Homo sapiens: one gene and its partners. The protein of the gene in region 1 interacts with the protein of each later gene in a pairwise test. Each region holds a gene or a part of one and is shown on either strand. Other genes may lie near its edges.

Region 1 (7,208 bases):
TGCAGGGATTACATGGCGAGAAAGGGATTAAGCAAGAAATGGGGGCGATGCCAGCCTCCTTTTAACAACCAGATGTCACAGGAACCAACAGAGTGAGAATTCATTCACCCGGTCTCCCTCTGCTCCAAGCAGGAAATTCACCTATTCATGAAGGATCCACCCTCATGACCCAGACACCTCCCATTAGGCCCCACCTCTAACACTGGGAATTAAATTTCGACATGAAGTTTGGAGGAACAAACATTCAAACCATAGCACCAAGTCAAACAAAAAAATGCCTGGGGTTAAGTTATTTGGGGAATTGCCTCTCTAGCTTCCCTTATTCTTGCTCTTTTCACCTCAGCTTGAGATGGGAAGAACAGCGACTGGGCCGTTGATGACATCTTCTTGAATTGCTTGGGCCAGGTCTGCTATTGCTTTGCAGAATTTTTTGTTTTTCACTAGCTGATGTCTACTGTTCCTTTCATGAATACTCTCAGTCTCTGATTTGTTCTGGCACTTTAACCTGCCATCCATCTGAACAGAAAAATTTCATTTTTTTCTAGGAAAACAGCAGAATTGTTAACACCAAAGCTGCCATGGCTTATGAGAAAACAGACAGATGAAAAGCTAAAGAGAGAAACATACAGAAACCCCAGTGGCGGTCTAATTGGGGTGTTGATCATCTCACCTCTCTGAGCAATGAGACAGCCTGGAGGTTAGATCAACAATGCTCTGAGTCCCAGGAGAGACCCACGGCCTGCATCTGGGACTTCACCAGATCTAGTTTATCTTGAACTGGAGCCAAGAATCCCAGGCCAGAGTCACCCAGCCCCAGTTCTTTTGGGAGCCTTTTTTCATGGGCTGTCTCTGTCATGGGAAGGCCATGGGCTGAGGAGGTTAGTGTGATGCCTAACCTCACTAGAGGTTGAGGAAGGAGATGGAATGGGAGAAGGAGAGATGGAAATGACAGAGCTAGAGCAAGAGTTGAGAGAAGGCAGAGGAGGGTGGGAGGGTGGGGAGGGCAAGAGGAACTGTATCCGTTTCCTGCGGCTGCCATAACAAAGTCCCACAAGTGGGTGGCTTAAATAACAGAAATGTATGATCTCACAGTTGTAGCAACAAGAAGTCCATGATCAAGGTGTTGGCAGTGCTGGTTCTTTCTTAGGACTGTGAAGGACAGTCTGTTTCATGTCTCTCCTAGCTATCAGTGATTTCCTGGCCATCTTTGATATTCCTTGGCTTTTAGATGTGTCACCCAGGTCTGCCCTCTTCTTCACATGATGTTCTCTGTGTATGCCTGTCTCTGCCCAATTGTCCCCTTTTTGTAACAATACCAGTCATATTAGATTAGGGCCCACCCTAACAACCTCCTTTTAACCTGATAATCTACAAAGATCCTATTTGCTGTCAAGGCCCCCTTCACAGGTTCCCCAGCAGAGGCAGGGCTTCAGTGTAATTTTGGAGGACACGATTCAACCCATGATAGGAGCAAGGGTGAGAAAGAGAGGAGAAGGGAGCAAGGTCTGGGCCTCATGTGCCAAGTGATGGTGGGGGATGGGAAGAACTGGCAGCAAAGCTGTCAGGGACAGCAGCAAAGGCCTGGGGAGTGGAAAAATGTGCTTTGTGTACTCTGGAAAAACAGCAGTGAACAAGCAAACAAAAGCCCTACCCTTGTGGAGCTTATGTTTTATGGGAGTGGGTGGAGAAACAGACAATAAACACCTTAGTATTTTAATTTTCCAGGTGTTGAGAAGAGCCACAGAGATTCTCAAAGAAAGCCCCATGTTGATGAGGGGTTTCAATGTAGAATGGGGGGTCCACGAAGCCTTCACTAAATAGGTGACATTGGAGTGAACACAAAAATGAAGAAATGAGCCACATGGATGACTTTCTGGGGAACACAAAAATGAAGAAATGAGCCATATGGATGACTTTCTGGGGAAAGAGTGCTCAAGCAGTGGGCTGGCCAGGGTGACAGCCCTGGGGTGGGCTGTTCTTGGTAAGTTCAAGCACAGCGTTGCTAGAGATGAGTGGAAGATGGTGACTCTGCACACTCAGTTTTCTGAAGGCCTCCTGGATTTGGAACCTTCTAATCCTTCATCCTCATTAACCTCAAAATGTCCCCAGATATTCTGAACTACATCTCCCAGGGTGTCTGCCTCTTGAATTTGGAAATGACACAGTATTCCCACCTGGCAATACACCGTGATTTGAGATTTGGAAGACACAATTCAATCCAGAAATTGCTAAGCACTGTCCACTGGGGCATTACAATGGGATTCCAGGAGAACAACCACACATAACCCACTATTTCACCTCTGACTTCATGAAAACACACGTGTATACATGCTTGTGCACGTGAGTGTGCACAGACACACCACACACACTGGAAGAAACAACTGAGTCAAAAGGTAAAACATTTTTTTCCACAAACATTTTAGCTGACATTCTAAGATCAAAATAAAGACAAAAACAATGAGCAAGTTCATTGCAGGACTTCCCCAATGGCAGTTTTCCCCCCTCCACTCTTGGTTGCAGACAGCATGGCTGCTTTACAGCCATCAGAAGAAACACTGCTCATGGTGATGGTCAGCTATCCTTCAACCTGTTCAAGCCAGAAGCCTGAAAACTGAGCATGCTGGATTCTCTTCTCCCTTCTACCTACCTCACTCCCTCAGTGATCTCAGGTCTCACGGCTTCAAACACTATCTGAGTGCTGCTGGAGTCCAGCTTTGTATATGCAGGCCAGACCTCCCCCTGACCTTCAGCTATCCTACAACTGCTGCCTTCACTTCATCTCCTCTTAGCTGTCTAGAGGACATCTCGAATGTCACATGTTCCAAATCAAGCCACTGGCATGCATTCATCTCCTTCCACCTTCTCTCCTTCCCCATCTTGGTTAATGGCAAGTCTATTCTTCCAACTACTCAGAACAAAAATTTGAACTCATCTTGACTCTTCTCTTCCTCTCACATTAGTCATTAATTCATCAGCAAATCCTATAGGTTCTTCCTTAAAGTATATCCACAAGCTGACCCCTGTCACCACCGATGCCACTTAGTGCAAGCCAAGAACCTCTTGGTTGGTCTCCCTGCTCCTGCTTTTTGCCCCCCACTGATTAGTCTCAACCCAGCAGCCAGAATGATCCAGTTAAAACCCAAGTCAGATTGTGTCTCTCCTCTAAGGGCTCCCCTCTCACTCAGAGGAAAAGCCAAAGTTCCTTCAATGCAACCAGGGGGTGTCCTGCATGGTCCTCCTGCCCCCCGCCCCCTTGCCTCTCTTATTCCACTTCCCATCAGGCTCCACCCTGCTCTCTTTGCTTCAGCCATGCCGGCTGTTCCTCAGACATGCCAGCATACTCTTGCCTTGGAACCTTCACATTTATCATTCTGTCTGCCCCGAACACTCAACCTCAAATAGCTGTGCAGCCCTCTCCTTTACACAAATGGTAACTCTTCCATGAAACCTTTCTCCACCACTCAATGTCCATTTCCAAGCCCAGCCCATGCTCCCCAGCCCCATCCCTGCTCTGCTTTTTTGCCTTCATCCTCATCACTATCTGACCCAGTGGATAGTTTTAATTGTATCTGTCACTAGAATGCAAGCTCCATGAGACACACATTTTTGTCTGTGTTATTCATTGCTCTACTTCCAGTTCCCAGAACAATTTTGGCACATAGCATGTGTTCATTAATTATGTGTTGGTTAAATGAAGGAAGCTTTATGAGGGAAAGAGCATGCCACTCCTCTTCCAGCGTCCCCCTTGGTGGCCAGGGCAGAGCAGGCATTCAGCTGCTCTTGTGGGAGAAGAAGGGACTTGCAAGATCATCTCCCTTAGCTCCCTCATTTTCAGGAGGCCAGGGACAGTGGTCCCCAGGAAGGGAAGGAGAGTCCAACCTAGTTTGCCTGATCCCCCATGGGAGGCTGAGGTTGCAAACAGACAGCTGCAGCTCCTTGCAGCTATGCCACACACACAGCCTTTCTGAATCAGAGGGTATTAGTCTTTCCTTCTGAACTCTTGGGATATTCCTGTTTTGATTTGGCTCTAGCAGTGACCACACCGAGTTGTGCAAAGCCTGGGAACAGTGAGGGCATTAGGACCAGGAGTGACGCGCACGCTTGGCTCTGGGTTGTGTCTGGCAGAGGGCTCTCGGCTGAGTGGAGCTATGTGTGAAAGGAAACCAGGCACTGCCTGCCGGCTTTACATCTGTTGATCTGACCTGACTGGAAGCGTCCAAAGAGGGACGGCTGTCAGCCCTGCTTGACTGAGAACCCACCAGCTCATCCCAGACACCTCATAGCAACCTATTTATACAAAGGGGGAAAGAAACACCTGAGCAGAATGGAATCATTATTTTTTTCCCAAGGAGAAAACCGGGGTAAAGGGAGGGAAGCAATTCAATTTGAAGTCCCTGTGAATGGGCTTTCAGAAGGCAATTAAAGAAATCCACTCAGAGAGGACTTGGGGTGAAACTTGGGTCCTGTGGTTTTCTGATTGTAAGTGGAAGCAGGTCTTGCACACGCTGTTGGCAAATGTCAGGACCAGGTTAAGTGACTGGCAGAAAAACTTCCAGGTGGAACAAGCAACCCAGGTTCTGCTGCAAGCTTGAAGGAGCCTGGAGCGGGAGAAAGCTAACTTGAACATGACCTGTTGCATTTGGCAAGTTCTAGCAACATGCTCCTAAGGAAGCGATACAGGCACAGACCATGCAGACTCCAGTTCCTCCTGCTGCTCCTGATGCTGGGATGCGTCCTGATGATGGTGGCGATGTTGCACCCTCCCCACCACACCCTGCACCAGACTGTCACAGCCCAAGCCAGCAAGCACAGCCCTGAAGCCAGGTACCGCCTGGACTTTGGGGAATCCCAGGATTGGGTACTGGAAGCTGAGGATGAGGGTGAAGAGTACAGCCCTCTGGAGGGCCTGCCACCCTTTATCTCACTGCGGGAGGATCAGCTGCTGGTGGCCGTGGCCTTACCCCAGGCCAGAAGGAACCAGAGCCAGGGCAGGAGAGGTGGGAGCTACCGCCTCATCAAGCAGCCAAGGAGGCAGGATAAGGAAGCCCCAAAGAGGGACTGGGGGGCTGATGAGGACGGGGAGGTGTCTGAAGAAGAGGAGTTGACCCCGTTCAGCCTGGACCCACGTGGCCTCCAGGAGGCACTCAGTGCCCGCATCCCCCTCCAGAGGGCTCTGCCCGAGGTGCGGCACCCACTGTAAGTAAGGCCCTTGTTTTCCCTTCCCTGATCCCAGGGCATGATCGGGTGGTAGCAAACTCGGGAATGCAAACTTTCCGTAGCCTGCCTCTCCTGACTTAGAGCAAGTGCTTTTCAAGATGCAGTACCTGGGCCAGCAGCGTCAGCAGCCCCTGGGCACTGGTGGGTTCTCAGAAATGCAGATTCTCAGACCCCATCCCAGACCTGCCAAACAAGAAACTCTGGGTGGGGTCCAGTGGTCTGTATGAACAAGCCCTTCAGGTGAGAATCATTGTCCTAGAAAGCAGAAAGTGAGGACTCTTGCTTGTTCATTCTCTTCTCCGTCCTGGGTTCTAGTTCTTCTGTCTTTAGGTCAAATGGCTTTATTTCTATAACACAGAAGGGAGGTTAGAGCAGACATTTGCCAGTTCTAACACTCTGACTCCACTACATTTTGATTTTAGGGTTATTGTTAGTGTTTGCTTTTAGTTTGGATCAAAATAACAATTGCAGTTTACATTTAGGGGGCTCTTCCCATGCGTCTGGATTTACTTTACAAGCTTTTAATGTATTAACTCATAAAGTCCTGGAAAGTCCTCACAGCTCTGCAAGATGGGTGCTAGTAGTATCATCATGCTTATTCTATAGGTATGAAAACAAGGTGAAGTTGCTTTCCCAGTCACGCTGCTAGTAGGTAACAAAGTCAGGATTTGAATGCAGGCATGTGAGCTCCAGTCTGCCTGACCCACCACTCCATGCCACCTGCCTTGGGCCACTAGACTAAGGAAACAGGTCCAGTGCCTGAGAGCCAGAATACTGTGCTGACTGCAATTTACCCTGCCAGGGCAGCCCCAGCCCCAGGAGGTAAGCTGAGAAGTGTAGGTGATGGGCAGAGCTGTGCCCAGGGAGATGCTGGCCCATCCTCCACACCCCCTGCTCCCTTACTGTCACCATGGCTGACCACTGAGGAGGGAGCCTTGGTTACCAGCATCCAGGGAGCAAGGCAGCTTGTTAGTTTTAGTTTGGTGATTTAGGTCCCTTTTCCTATAGGCCATTGCTCCTCCCAGAGCCTGGAGAGTTTCCTGGAAAGCAAACATTTGTGCAGGGCAGCAGTTGGAAGCAGGGCCACACACTCTTCGGATCCCTGATCTAGTTCCCCTCAGCCTGGCTGCTCAGCCACTCACACTCGAGGGTGTGCAATTGCAGGGTCAGCAGCCGGGAGTGAACATCTCCTTAAATTGTGTGCCCCGGGTGCCTCACTCACCGCACCCTACTTCCATTTCAAACCCGCTACACTGTTTTCAAGCCTTACCTTTAAAAGCTATTTTCAGGAAATTCCCACCCCATTCTAGTTTTGTGCCCTCCTTGCACCCTGGAGTTTTAACTCACAGCACTTACAAAACTAAAGCCAAATGATTATTGATGTATTTATCAGTCGAATGCCTGCTTTCCCTGCTATGCTGTGAGCCCCTTAGAAGGTCAGGACTGAGTTTGTATTGTACATCCCAAAGCCCAACATGCAGTAAAGAAGTGATTGCTGAATGAACAAACATAGTTTTCAAATTTTTTGACACTATTTTTCACTGGCCTGGAGCAAGAGTGAGCATCCTCTTTTTGCCGATAAGAAATAATATTGCCTGAAACGAGAGGGTCTGTGGCTACCAAAGTGGTCTGTGTGTGTGACTGTGTGTTTGCATAGTGCAAATGTGTGGTGAATATGCATATTTGTGGGTCATGGTATATGTATGTTCGTGCATGTGTGTTGTATATATTCTCTGTGTTGTGTGTGCATTGCATTATGTGTATTAAATGGATGTCGTGCATGTATGTGTAGTACATGCAGGTACTGCGTTATGTGGTGCCTATATGCTTGGTGCATGTTACTTTGTGTATGTGATATGATATGCACAGCTATGCATTGTGCAATGTGTCATCTTGTGTGCATGTGTGTTAATGTGCATGTATTATGTGCATGGTTCATATATGTATTGTGTATTGGGGTGATGCCACATGCATTGTTCATCTGGGTGTGT
Region 2 (6,974 bases), on another chromosome or scaffold:
GTGACATAAACAAAGATAGTTAAGTTGTTTCTGATAGGTGAGAACTGCCTGTATTTAACTAGTATATGGTCATTAAAGATCTCCATGTGGTTTCTAAGAATGCAGAGTCATCATAAGAGAGTCAATAGCTTTAAAAAACAGCTAGATTTAAATAGGGAAGGAAATGTAGGCAATAATAATGTGAACTGTATTGTTTTTTGCTCTAATTTTCATAGAAGAAAATGGAAATATTTTTTGGTCTCCTAGACATTTTAAACAATTGCTAAAAAGTTGTCTTCCAGGTTTTTATTTTAACAAAAGTGTACATTATGGATTCTACAAGTAACTCATTTAAGAAAGCCAAATGTCATTAACTGTTACAATCTATTCAGAATGGGAGACCGAGAGTGGAAAATAGCCACTGAAATTTTTCTTCTATAGTACTCCAAAATAAACCCTGCAATTGTTTTGTCCAATCCAAAAAGGGCTATCTCATGTTTTTCATAAACCAGTTATTACAAGCATGTTCATGTTTCCTAAATAAACCAGCAATAAAATGAGAACTATTAACTATAGCCACACTGTAATGGGACTTAAGTTAAATGTATGTTATTAAAATACTTCTCAGAATGGTCATTATTTCTGAGAATCAGTCTTCATATTAAATATTTAACAACTTTTAAGAGGAAGTTACTATATATTCTTAAGAGAGAAAAGGTTTTGGTTGAGTTTTCTTAATGTCTTTAATAGGAATTAAATATTTGTTGACACTAGGGATCCTCAAGAAAAGAAAGCATACTTCTAAAATCTAGCCATTAAATCTAGTTTCATACTTTCTAATTTTCTTCAATTATACTTGATTTACAGAGAATCGAAACTAATACAAATGCAGCCACCATCTGGAAAAAACATAGGTAATTCATTGGACATTTTCCTTTCTTGACTGTTAAAAATTCCTCAACAGTTAACTTATGCAAATTAGTAAGAAGGTACAAATGTCAAAATGACAAAAGGGTACAAAAGTCACAATATGATCATACCGTTTTGGCCTGGTATTGCTATTTAAGTGAAGACATCCAAAAGGGAGAAATATGACAACTGGTATTTGCTTACTTGCCAATGAACTATTACATAATGAATTTTAAAAAATAGAAACATTTCTAATTTCCAGTTGTAAGGGAATGAATGGTTAGGCCCATTGTGATGTTAAAACTAAAATAAGTATTTAGTTGTTAGGGAAAAAATGAGGATTATATTAAAATATGTAAAGTACTTAAGTAAAAGAAGTGGGGAAAGCCAAAATTTTATGGAATTGCTGCAATTCTGTCAGAGTAAACTGGTAGGATCAAAAGATCTGATGTTTATAAACACTTGATGTGAAACGTTTTTCATTTTATTTTACTTTTGCATTGCTTCTGATGTTTAATGTTCCTTTTTAATGTTTATTATTGTTACCATGCTTTCTATTCAATTGCATGTTTTCTACTAAAACTCTTAATATTTAAAAAATATTAAAATCTCACAATCCACTCAACAGAGCGTCTGTCTGACCATAATTCAATGAATCTCTAGATTTGGAAGAGAATTTGTCATCTAGTTTATCCCTTCTAAATCTATCGACCACCCACCACCAGAGTCTTTTTGTTTGTTTTTTTCATCTTTGAGAGGGGCTATCACTGAAGCACCACATTTGTTTGGGGAAAGCATTCTTTAATTTAAAAAAAAATCTTCCTTAGACTGAAATTCACCTCCCAATAACCTTCACTAATTTGGTTAATTTGTTATCAGTTCTATATTTTAGTCTACACAAATCTTATTTTTCTTCTACCAGACAGCTGTGCGATTGCTGTATTTTAGGTCAGGTACTACAGATCTTTAGAACGTTCCCGGCGAAGCAACCCTATTTACCTCAGAATTATCTTAATTCATGTTTGCACTCCCTGATAACCTAGGACATAGGAGTTCAATACTTGCTGATTCCTTCACCATCCTACTCGGTCTGAGTTCCGTTTAGAAATATCCCCCTTACAATGAAATGCTCATAACTCAACACAATCTCCCAAGTGTTGACTGCATTCTGGAGATTTTCATCCTTTAGATGTGAAATCCTCATGAGTTGTGTGGGTTAAGTGAGGGTCCTTAAGTATAGAACGTTACATATATTCACTAAATTTCATTTTCTAAGATTTCACTCCTCATACCGGCCTTCGAATACTTTCTTGGGTAAGGTATCTTTCTTCCAACTTAAGTTACCGCAGCGGGCCCCGGGACCGTAGAAACGGAGATGACCTCAAATGCCACCTATGATAGGTCAATTCTAACCTGAGGGAATGGAGGTTATCTCCTAATTTCGTTACTAAATAAAACGGTCATATACGTGTTACGTGTAAGTCTATATTTCTCTCCCACACACTCCCACCCACATGCTGAGGGTACAACCCAGCCGGTAGCTGGGGCTGCCTGTTACATGAGGCCTTAGATAACGACGACTTAGCCCGCTTTAAAATAAACAAGTACGCTACAGAGAGCGATGAGCAGGACAGGAGATGAAAGAGACTGGCCTGTTCCCAACTCAGCACCTTCTCTGCAAAAACCTGGTATCTTGCCACGGAATGACACCGGAGACAACTCCGAGGACAAAAGACCCTGGGGCATCAAGCACCCGGAGACTGCCTCACAGGCGTTCCCCAGGCAGCTGCGTCGGCGCGCGCCCACCTTCCTCTGCGCGCGGGGATCACGTGCCAGGCGCCGAGCTCCGTCCCGCCCCTTGGCCCTAGGATTTTTACGCCTCCTTCCCCCGCTTGGCGAACGTGCAAGGATGGGGACTGGCTGATGGGGGAGGATTACCTGTGAGCCTAGCGAACCCGGTAATGCTTTCAGGGACTGGGAGCCGCTTCAGATATGCAGGGAGCTGCACCTTCACGATACGGGCCACGCTCTCCAGCACCATCCTGGCCAGCGGCGTCCACTCCTCTCCCGAGCCCCCTCCGCTCTGGCCAAGCTGCCGCGCCTGCGCCGGGAGCGGAAGCGGCCGGCGGGCACTGGCGGCCTCGGCCTGGGCGGCGGGCGGGGCGGCGGGCCCTGGGAGGAGAGGTGACCTGCCGGGCGCCGATTGGCGGCGGGCGAGTGACGTACGCTCGCGGCGGACTGCCGAGGCGCGGGAACTGGCGGGTAGCGAGGCCCTCCTCGGAATCTCGTGTGAAGGTGGCCCTCCTCTTGGGCCTTTAACGTCTGTAGATGCTGGAGACCAGCAGAAAGGATACTGTGTGCGATGAGATAAGCATGTGAGAATGCTTTCTAACCGAAAGTGCCTTTCAAAAGTGAGTCTCTTGCTGTCTCTACTTCGTCCCCTCTCGCCCCGCCTCTTCCCCTACAGTTTGGGTGCTGTGGCCCTAGGGTTGCATACTCGCCCATGAGTATCCTCCCCCTACCCAGACCCCAGTGCCTAATTTTACTCCTTCACCCAAAGGCCAGGCTTAAAAAAATAAAAATTAAAATATTTTAACTAAACCAGGAACTGTTTACATCTCTGCCCCTTGGCAACTTAACTGCAGCCCTAGCTCCAAAAACCTCTGGTTTTTGCCACTCAGAGAAGATTCGTAGTAGTCCTTCCTTAGATATTTTCAGTTCCTTTTCCTTCGGGAAAGTGGTAAAAGAATCCAAAGCTGGCCGGGCGCGGTGGCTCACGTCTGTAATCCCAGCACTTAGGGAGGCCGAGGCGGGTGGATCACGAGGTCAGGAGTTCGAGGCCAGCCAGGTCAAGATGGTGAAACCCCGTCTCTACTAAAAATAGAAAAATTAGCCGGGCGCGGTGGCAGGTGCCTGTCCCAGCTACTCGGGAGACTGAGGCAGGAGAATCGCTTGAACCAGGGAGGCGGAGGTTGCAGTGAGCCGAGAATGTGCCACTGCACTCTAGCCTGGGAGACAGAGCAAGACTCCGTCACAAAAAAAAAAAAAAAAAAGAATCTAAAGCCTTATGTATGGTTTTCTTTATGTTACAAGGCTTCTGCTGAAGTCTAGCGCAGGGGGTCCTTATGGCTTCCCTAGGCCACACTGGAAGAAGAATTGTCTTGGGCCACACATAAATACACTAACACTAATGGTAGCTAATGAGCTAAAAAAAAATTTTTTTTCATAAAGTTTTAAGAAAGTTTACAGATTTGCATTGAGTGGCATTCAAAGCCATCCTGTTGGGCAAGCTTGATCTTGAAGGTTTTAATTTTGTTGTTGTTGTTGTTGTTACAAGGTTTCGCTCTATCGCCCAGGCTGTAGTGCAGTGGTCAGATCATAGCTCACCGCAGACTCTAACTCCGGCTTAAGGGATCCTTCTGCCTCAGCCTTCCAAGTAGCTGGGTTTACAGGCGTGTGCTGCCACACCCAACGAATTTTAAAAATTTTTGTGTGTATGTAGATGGAGTCCCATTATATCGCCCAGGCTGGATAGTTGTTTTTATTAATATCTCTAAAAGATTTGAAGGGTAAGAGGAGAAAATTTCACTCCCTTGAAATAACTTTCTTGCTATGACTTTGTTTCATATTTTGGCTGAAGTCAAAATGTCCGAAGTTGTGCACTTGCTGATTGGATAATGTGTGTGATATCTTAATAATATGCCTCATTATTTACAGTTCTACACTTAACAACATATAATAACGAACTGCTAATGGTCCAGTATTTCATTGTGTATGACAGTGTAACAGCCAGTTATAATAAATACTTTCCATTTTTCCCCTTGGTATTTTTATTTTACAGTGAGAAAAGGAAGGAATTTTTTAAAGCAATCTTTCATTCTCTGGACTGTATAAATTTAGTGTTTGTGATTGTCCTTCACTAAAAAAGAATATCAGTAATAGAGTTGACCAAAATCTAGATTAAATAATTTTCTATCATTATAATTGTTCAAAATTGTTAAAGTAAAACTTACAATGGAAATTCTACAAACACGTTTAGATACAGGTTCATGTTTTTGAGCTAGGGCAGTATAGAAGATGGTGTATACAAAGTGATGTTTAAAAGGTTGATGGGATTTCCTTTAGAGAGAGTTTGGAGGTAAACCCTGGAGCTTTTTTATCCTGAAGATGATGGAACTTGAATATCCTTGTCCTCTGGACTATTCTGTTAACTGTTATCTTTAATCTCTGTGGATCTAATGTAGAAGCACCCTTGGGTACAACTAGATACCCTAGTTGAGGTAGGGGTAGGTTGGAAGTGGGGTACATTAGGAAAAGAAAATCTGGAAAAGGCCATTACCTATTCGTTTCTTCTCTTAGAGGATCTGTCATCTTGACAAGGGCAAGACGTGCTGTGTTGAGTTTAATTTTTCCCCTTGGTATTTTAAAGTGAGAAAAGGAAAGAATTTTTTTAAAGCAACTTTACATTCTCTGGACTGTATAAATTTAATGTTTGTGATTGTTGTGCATTAAGAATAAGACCTCCAAGCAGTTTTTCTTTAAAGAATTAAAAAATACATACCTCAATTTAAAGATATAGTAAAATGCTCAAATGCCAAATGTACAGTTCCAGGTAACCACCACCCACATCAATATACAGAATGTTCAATAGAGGCGTTTTTAAAAAGCGACCCTTCCAACCACATCCACCACCATTACTACTATTCTGTATTGCTGTGCATGTTTTTGACCCTCACATATAAGTAATTTTACAGTATGTAATTTTTTATGGTTGGCTTACTTCCTCTTAGCAGTTTATGTGAATAGCTGGTTTGCTATTTTCAAGTAGAAAAAATGTAGTGAATGCAAGTCTATATGGATAAAACTTTTTTGGGAGGCCTTGAAATTCAGAGAAAAGGTGTGGATCATATATTAGGTATTCTGATGCATTACATGAGCTATGCGAATGTGTAATAGGAGATAATTCCTAACTCCACCAATTTAAAAATCCTTATTATCCACTTAAAAGGAATATTTTCTTAAATTCCCTTTACTTAAAATTTAAATCCTGTTTTCATTTATATTTGTATTTCATTTCCACAACCCTGCCTTCTTGGCTGCACATGAAACATGGTCTAAAGATAATATTGCTCTAAATAGATGTAATAGGCTTATCTGACCACCTTATGCGATAGTGTTTTTAGACTCCATCTTTAAAAGACATAAAGAAACTGTGGTCAGAAAACTCAAGATAAATATGTAAATACAGTTAAAGGAGTCATTATTTACTTTCAAGCACTTGAGCTTGGATCACTCATCTTCTGCCTGTCCTAGCTAGGCCCAAGACTTTTATTTCTTTCATGTTTTTTTCCCATTAGGTCATCCAGTGCCCCAAATTCAAATATGATCGTTAAGATATAGCCCAAATCTCTATTTCCAGCCCAGATTTCTTTAGGCTAATCTTAATTCTAGGAGTCTAATTCCAAATGCCTACTAGTCTGCTCTTGACATCTTTGCCCACTGTGCTATTGGTTTGTTCATCAGTTTCACTGGTACATGTTTTCTGGAAAATATTACCTTGTTGGTTACATTGGTTGCTTATCTTTTCCTGTTGCTTATCTTCTCCTAGTGTATGTCTTTTTTTTTTTTTTTTTTGGTTGAGACAGAGTCTCTGTTGCCCAGGCTGGAGTGCAATGGCGCGATCTCAGCTCACTACAACCTCTGCCTCCCAGGTTCAAGTGATCCTCCTGCCTCAGCCTTCCATGTAGCTGGGACTACAGGCGCCCGCCACCACTCCCGGCTAATTTTTGTATTTTTAGTAGAGACGAGGTTTCACCATATTTGCCAGGCTGGTCTTGAACTCCTGACCTCATGATCCACCTGCCTCTGCCTCCCAAAGTGCTGGGATTACAGGCGTGAGCCACCGTGCCTGGCCGTGTATGTCTGTTTTTATACTGAAATTTGGTTTGGGTGTAGTCAAATTTATTCATCTTTTTCTTTACAATTTGTGTTCTGGGAGTCTTGTTTAAGAAATCTTTTTCTACCCCTAAATCACAAAGGTATTCACCTGTGTTTTTGCTAAAAGTTTTAAACTTATATTCTTCATA
Region 3 (7,025 bases), on another chromosome or scaffold:
AAAATGTACTATACTTTAAAGATAGGTACTATAATTAGTAAATAGATTACTGTTAAATAACTTTTTTTAAAAAAAAGTTTCATCTATGCACATAGGCTCTGAGCAGATTTCAGATAGTTCCTGAATAAAAATCAAAATTGACTATCAGTTGCCATTTTATATATGTTAACATATAAAGAAAAAAGAGTCATTTGAGGATGGAAGATCAGCTAAAAAGCAAGTTGTAATATTTATAACAGTTCTGCAGGTGGAGGTGGCAGGGATTCATTAAGATCTTGATCAGAGTTGGGAGGAATAGAGAACTCCTGACACTGGATCTCAAGGTTGGAATCTTCTTGGTTTTTCATAAAATCTACTGGTGGCAGGGGCAAGTTAAGTGAGTCAAGCGGTGGAAATGATTGTATTATCTCAGATTTATGATCTCCACAGTCTTGATTGAGACAGTCCAGAGATGGAGGGAGACTAGTAGAATCATTTGGAAGAGGAGATACAATTGTCATTGTGGGTTTGTCAGATTGGTTACTTTCCTGTCCTTCCAAATCCAGAAGGGGAGGTGGTGGAGGCAGATCTGCATCATCTGAAGAAGAAACAGCAGTTCCAACTGTTGAACCATCAGCACTATCTTCTGATGTACCATTTACTTGATCTTTTATTTTCTCTGTTTTGGGGTTGTTGGAGTCTTCAATGTTTTCACTTGATTCAAACAACTTAATTTCTAAGTCATCTGCTAAAAGTGTGCTTTTGCTTGGTTTCCAGGGTGTAAGTGAAATGATTGATGTACGTTTTGTGGATATTTCATTTTCTCTGATGTTATCCATACAAATGTCAGGGGTTTCTCCATCAGCAAATGGAGATCTACCTGCCCAATTTTGATCATTTAAAACTGGTTTCCTTAAGCATTTCCAAAGTACAATGATGATTATAGCTACCAACATAGAAGTCAGAAGTACACCAATTAGTATGGCAGCTATTGAATTATAATTGTTTTTTTGTGGGGTTTGTTTGTTACTGGTAGTATCTAAGATAAATCCTGGTGTACTCCTAGGTGAATTTTTGACAGTTGATGTTGGTTGTGTGGATGGATTATGAACAGTTATTTGTTTTCTAGAAGGGATCTGGACAGATGATGATTGTTGAGTAAAAGTATAGACAAATGACTTTGGTGGTTGTGTGGTAGAAGTACGGGCAGATGGTAGTTGTCTGGCAGAGGTGAACACGGCTTGCTGGGAGGAGGTGTTGGCTATTGGTGTTGGTTGTTTGGTGTTGTAGGCAAGTGGTTGTCCAGCAGAAGTATGTGCTTCTGGTTTTTCAGAAGAGGTATAGACAGCTGGTGTTGGTTGTCCAGCAGTGACTTTGGCAGGTGATATTGATTGTCCAGAAAAAGTGTCGCTGAATTGTGTTGGTTGACCCAAAGGATTCCCTGTTGTGTTTTGAGAATTAGCCAATACCTGTGACATTGATGATGTGAATAAGGTAGGCTGTGACTGCTTCTCTGTTGTAATTGTCTCTGTCTTTGAAAAAAATGTATTGTTCAGGTGTCCACAAAACAAAATTAAGATGAAATATTTGGGATCCATTTCAGAATATTTCCTCGTTATCTATAGCGGGTTTATAATGAAAGAGAAAGACAGTTAGGCGTCATTGGTGTCTAGTTAAAAATTTGACTTTTCATTATGATTCCTGGCATAAAGTAGGTAGACATTATTCCTAATTAGTAGTAGTTGATTAGTAGTTATTATTCCTAATTTAGACTTGATACACTGTAGGTTTGGTGTAACAACTCTTGGATATACTCTAACCCATCATACAGCATTTGGACCTCATAAGCAGTGATCTCTCTTCTTTTATTAATACAAGTTCTGTACTTGGCTCTGCTGCCCCTCTAGCTTCATTATATTTCAGTACTTCACTTAGTCATACTTCTCAAAACGCATAGGCTCTATATGCTGGATCCATGTGTTCTCTACCTTTTTTCACCATTTTCTACTAGAAATATATTGATTCTCCTGCCTTGAAGAACACCAGTGATCATCTGTTACCTAATCTAATTGTTCTTTATTTCTTCTCTCCCCTCCCCTCCTTGACCACATTAGACACTACTGTTCCTTCACTAATATTCAAGTAGCTTTTTGTAATCAGTCTTCCTTTCATGTTACTCTCACTAGCTCTTTTTCTTCTGCCTCCTAAATATGGTTAATTGATATTCTGTCCTCACCCTTACCTACTTTTCTTTGTTCCTGATTCTGTAAGATTTTAGTTCTCAGCTTTATGCCACAATTCCTAAACCTGTACCTCCAGCCTACATCTTCTTTGTCCTAATTCTATTTGTGTGACTTCTTGGTGGATTTTTCCATATTTTATATATATAGATAGATAGACATAGATATAGATATAAATATCTCCCACTATCAGCAAATTCAACATATTTAAAATGGAGTTCATCTTTACCCTCACAACTGACAACTGACTCTTCTCCCAACTTCTCTGTATCTGTTAATGGTACCACTAAGTTTCTTAGGCACAGAGTCTATTAGTAATCTTTGAAGCATCCTTAGTGTCTCTGTAGCGTGGTAGCCTTATGTTAATATTGCATATTTTTAAAGAATTTCATTCAACTCAGAGTCTTAGGCTTAAAATCCTAGAGTGATCTCTGAATCTGGTGGAGTAAATTCAATCCAGTTGGTCAAGTAGTCCTGCTGCTGCTTTCATTCATCTATTGGTAAATGCCACATTTGTGTGGAGCTCTGTTCTAGGTTTAGGAGATTAAAAAAAAAAAAAAAAGATAGTCACTGCCTTTAAGTGTTTCAGATTCTAGTGATAGAAGCAAACAGTAAAGGCCAGGCGTAGTGGCTCATTCCTGTAATCCCAGCACTTTGGGAAGCCAAGATGGGAGGATCGTTTGAGGCCAGGAGTTCAAGAACAGCATGGACCACATAGTAAGATCCCATCTCTAAATAAAAAGAAGAAAGAAAAAAAGCTAAAAAATAATTACAATAATTTTTTTTTTTTCAAGACAGTCTTACTCTGTCACCCAGGCTGGAGTGTAGTGGCACAATCTGGGCTCACTGCAAATTCCGCTTCCCAGGTTCAACTGATTCTCCTCTCTCAGCCTCCAAGTAGCTGGGATTACAGGTACACATCACCACGCCTGGCCTATTTTTGTATTTTTAGCACAGACGGGGTTTCACCGTGTTGGCCAGGCTGCTCGAGAACTGACCTCAGGTGATCTGCCTGCCTTGGCCTCCCAAAGTGCTGGGATTACAGGTGTGAGCCACCACGCCTGGCCCAATTACAATAATTTGATAAGCTTTCTCATAAAAGTATGCAGGAGATGTACAGAGAAGTTAACCTAGCCTGGAAAGGCTTCAGTGAAGTAAAGCTTGAACTGAATTTTAAAAGTCTATAAAAACTAATTAAGTTTCCAGCCAGGGAGAGCAACAATGTGGGCACAGGAAAATAAGGCACATATGAAAGTTTGGCAGATAGGGCTTTTTCTGGGATGTGGTAGATGCTAAAACTTGGAGAGTTAAGTTTCAGTTCTACTTCTCCCATCTAACTACCTGTCTAACCATGAGAACTAGTTGCTTAACCTTTCCTGTTCTCAATTGCCTTTCCTCTAAAGTGAAGAGTTCTACTGAGACAATTTGCAACTTTTGGTATAATATACTTGTTTTGCACATCATCAAACACAATGGCAACTATTTGGTTATCTCTTAACATTAGGGAATAGAAAATCTTAGGGTGTTAGATATTGGTATACATGATTAGAAACTATAGTTCTTCTGACTCATAAGCCTATATTTAGAGAGATTTGATGTTCTGTTGGAAGGTGCAATAAAGGTTTTACAAATTACCTTTTCAGCATATCTAAACAGCATATCATTGCTTACTCCTCTACCACTTGGTACACAGTGATGATAAATGGCCCTGTTTTAGTAGAAGAAAAGATATGTGATTTTTTTCCCTATACGAATAATTCAAGCCTGAATTTTAAAACAGTTCTCCTTTGAACTCTCCTGCACACTGCTGAATTAATCTTAAAAGTGTGCATGATCAGGTTACTACTGCCTTGCTTGAGGGTTTAATTTCTGTTAAGATAAAACTTCCTTTTTCTTTTTTTTTTTGGAGACAGAGTCGTTCTGTCACCCAGGCTGGAGTGCAGTGGCATGATCTTGTCTCGCTGCAACCTCTACATCCTGGGTTCAAGCGATTCTTGTGCCTCATCCTCCCGAGTAGCTGGGACTACAGTAGGCATACACTACCACACCTGGCTAATTTTTGTATTTTTAGTAGAGACAGGGTTTCACCATGTTGTCCAGACCGGTCTCGAACTCCTGACCTCAAGTGATCTGTCCGCCTCAGCCTCCCAAAATGCTGGGATTACAGGCATGAGCCACCACGCCTGGCCTGTTAAGATAAAACTTCTAAATTGAGTTTTCTTCCTTCTGGCTTGAGTTAACCAGTCCAGATTCACGTATCATGACTGAAACTTCTTATCCAGCCAAATGCATCCCTTTCCCACCTTGCATACTTTCTAAACACACGATTTTTCCCTGCTAAACAGACACTTCTATGCTGTTTTTTACCCTTCTCAAGGGTGTTCTTTTTTTTTTATTTTTCTTCCAGACCTAGCCTCTTCCCCTTTCTGGCTGCATATCTGAATCTGTCCTCATCTTTCAGACCTCAGTTTAAATTCCCCTTCTTAACCCAAGTTCTCTGTGACTGACTACAGCCCAAACAGATCAGTCATTTACTGAATTCCCCCTAGCTCTCATTTATTGTTTTTATGGTTCCTTACATAATTCATGTATGTATCTCACTCACACTTCTATTCTCTTAAGTAATTGTGTTTACTTTTCACATTTTCCTATACCTACTTCCTTGAACAAGATTATAAAGAACCTTGAAGAAGGCAGAAAGGAGAAAGAAAAATACTTATCTAGAGCATATTATGTGTTGTACTATCCCAGTTTTGCATACTTTATTTCACAGAACCTTCAAATGACTTTATAAGGAAGGTAAAGGGATCCCTTATTTACAGATAAAGAGACAGTGTCAAATGAGTTAAGCAGTTTGCCTGATGTTATACCACTCGAAGTGACAGATTGGGAGTTTGTACCCAGGGCCACCTGATTCCAAAGCATACATTCTTTCTGCTACCCTTTATTGCCTCATGTTTTTATATTTTGATTTCTTTGTAGTTAATGCCTTATATATTAGGAGCACAGTAAACATTTAACCTGTATTGGGCTTCTTGATTCCTTTCCATTTTAGTTTTTGCTTTTTACTAGTACTTCTACCAGAAAATAAGCAGAGGCAGTGAAATCTGAGTTAATAAATTCTGCTTTTTATCCATTTTGCAAAAGATTTAAAAGGGAAAATTTGAACACTTTTGGCATAGATATAGGGATTTGAATAATCTCTGGATGGTCATCATCCATGCAGTTCCTACCCATTATTCTTATAGATTACAAAAAAAGGCGGGGGGACTTCTTTAGAAAATGTTATTCTCTTCAGAACTTCATTTTAAAAATCTGTTTTAATGCTATGCAAAGCATCAGAAAATATAAGCCATGAATTGTCTTTAGCCAAAAATGTTTCCTCTTTTGTGACTTTGCTTAAAATAAGGAAACCATACGGTTCCTCTTTTCAGTTAGCTGAAAAAGGCATTAGAGAAGGACAGGGCCCAAACAGGAACATAATTTTAAACCCAGGTTAGTTTGTAAGATCAATTTTGATAGGCTCCTATCCTCTACTGTCAGTAGTAAGCTGGTGGAACCCTCCATGTATGAGATTTTCACTTGTCAGTTAACGGTTATGGCAATATTAAAACCAAATTCCATTTTTTGCCTATCCTAACACTTTCTACCACTCTTCAGTTAGCTTTTTATCCTCCTAGGATCTGCCACATCAGAGTACTAGAAACTGTATTAGAATTCTATGATGGCAATTCAGTGTAGTCCAGAGAAGGAGAAGAAAGATTTAAAAGAGGAATAAATAGGGAATATGGTAGTGGAAAAAACTGACTTTTTTCCCAGCGGTAATGAGGCCAGCGTTACTACCAGTGTGGAAGGTTATTTAGCATACACATTTTAAAATATGTAAGTGGTGTGTACCTGAAGTACCAACATTGTTTCTGTAGGTAAAGAACAATATTGGGCAGGGGAATAAAAAGGAGATTTAGAATAATATAAAAGGCAATGCAAAGAAATACAAAATAACACAAAAGAGAAAAAACAAAAACTCTAGGAAGCAGCGAACAGAAAAGAGGAAGGTCAATTGACTAGAGAAGATACAGAAAAGAAGAAAAGTTAATAAACAGGTGAAAAAAAAAGCAGTGGTTATATAATTAGCAAGAAGGCAGTGTAGATGATTGAAGTAGGCAAAATGAAGTTGGGGGTGGGGGGAGATGATTGAAGTAGATGAAAGAAGCAACGGCAAAATGCTGCTCTGTTGTGGCTGGCCTGTGTTTGTGAGTGCAGGGAGACAGTAAAGAGGAGCTTGCTTTCTAAAATGGAGGACCAGAAGGAACCATCCTTTCAAATTCATTTACCTTTCATTTCAGGCTCTCCTGTCTGCTGTGAGTATCCTTACCATCCTCTCCCTTTTTTTTTCCCTGACACTATCCAGAAGCATACCTAGCAATTATTCCAAAGAACCCATGTACCCGTGTACGTTTTATATAGAGTTTTCCAGAAATCCCTTAGTCTGCTGCTCAAGCAAATTTGTCAGCCCTCATATGCCGGTTTTTACTCATTATTATAGGCTGGCACTTTGAGGTTTAAATCTGTGATTTTGGTTCTTTTTCTTTGCTGAATATTTAGAATATTTTAAAAAGAAAAACATAAATTTAAACATTTTAAAGACAGTTACAGTGAAGCAGGAGTCCCCGTGTATAAGACATGTTCTTTTTTTTTTTTTTTTTCCGTTTGGAGACAGGGTCTCACTCTGTCACCCGGGTTGCAGTGCAGTGGTGCAATCTCAGCTCACTGCAGCCTCTGCCTCCTGGGCTCAAGCGATCCTCC

The links. Proteins that work in one complex are often made in the same cells at the same time.
Region 2: the proteins of GALNT15 (region 1) and CISD2 interact in binary tests that used the Homo sapiens proteins (3 or more experiments, as listed by UniProt).
Region 3: the proteins of GALNT15 (region 1) and EVI2B interact in binary tests that used the Homo sapiens proteins (3 or more experiments, as listed by UniProt).

The regions. Positions count from the first base shown.
Region 1 is NC_000003.12:16,170,495-16,177,702, forward strand, and holds the start of GALNT15 (polypeptide N-acetylgalactosaminyltransferase 15), read left to right. Parts: upstream 1-4,185; 5' UTR 4,186-4,657; coding exon 4,658-5,196; intron 5,197-7,208. UniProt on the Homo sapiens protein: Catalyzes the initial reaction in O-linked oligosaccharide biosynthesis, the transfer of an N-acetyl-D-galactosamine residue to a serine or threonine residue on the protein receptor.
Region 2 is NC_000004.12:102,865,040-102,872,013, reverse strand, and holds the start of CISD2 (CDGSH iron-sulfur domain-containing protein 2), read right to left. Parts: upstream 3,023-6,974; 5' UTR 2,930-3,022; coding exon 2,827-2,929; intron 1-2,826. Other genes in the region: UBE2D3 (ubiquitin-conjugating enzyme E2 D3), read left to right, coding at 3,270-3,299. UniProt on the Homo sapiens protein: Regulator of autophagy that contributes to antagonize BECN1-mediated cellular autophagy at the endoplasmic reticulum.
Region 3 is NC_000017.11:31,304,033-31,311,057, forward strand, and holds part of EVI2B (protein EVI2B precursor), read right to left. Parts: intron 1,599-7,025; 5' UTR 1,578-1,598; coding exon 231-1,577; 3' UTR 1-230. UniProt on the Homo sapiens protein: Required for granulocyte differentiation and functionality of hematopoietic progenitor cells through the control of cell cycle progression and survival of hematopoietic progenitor cells.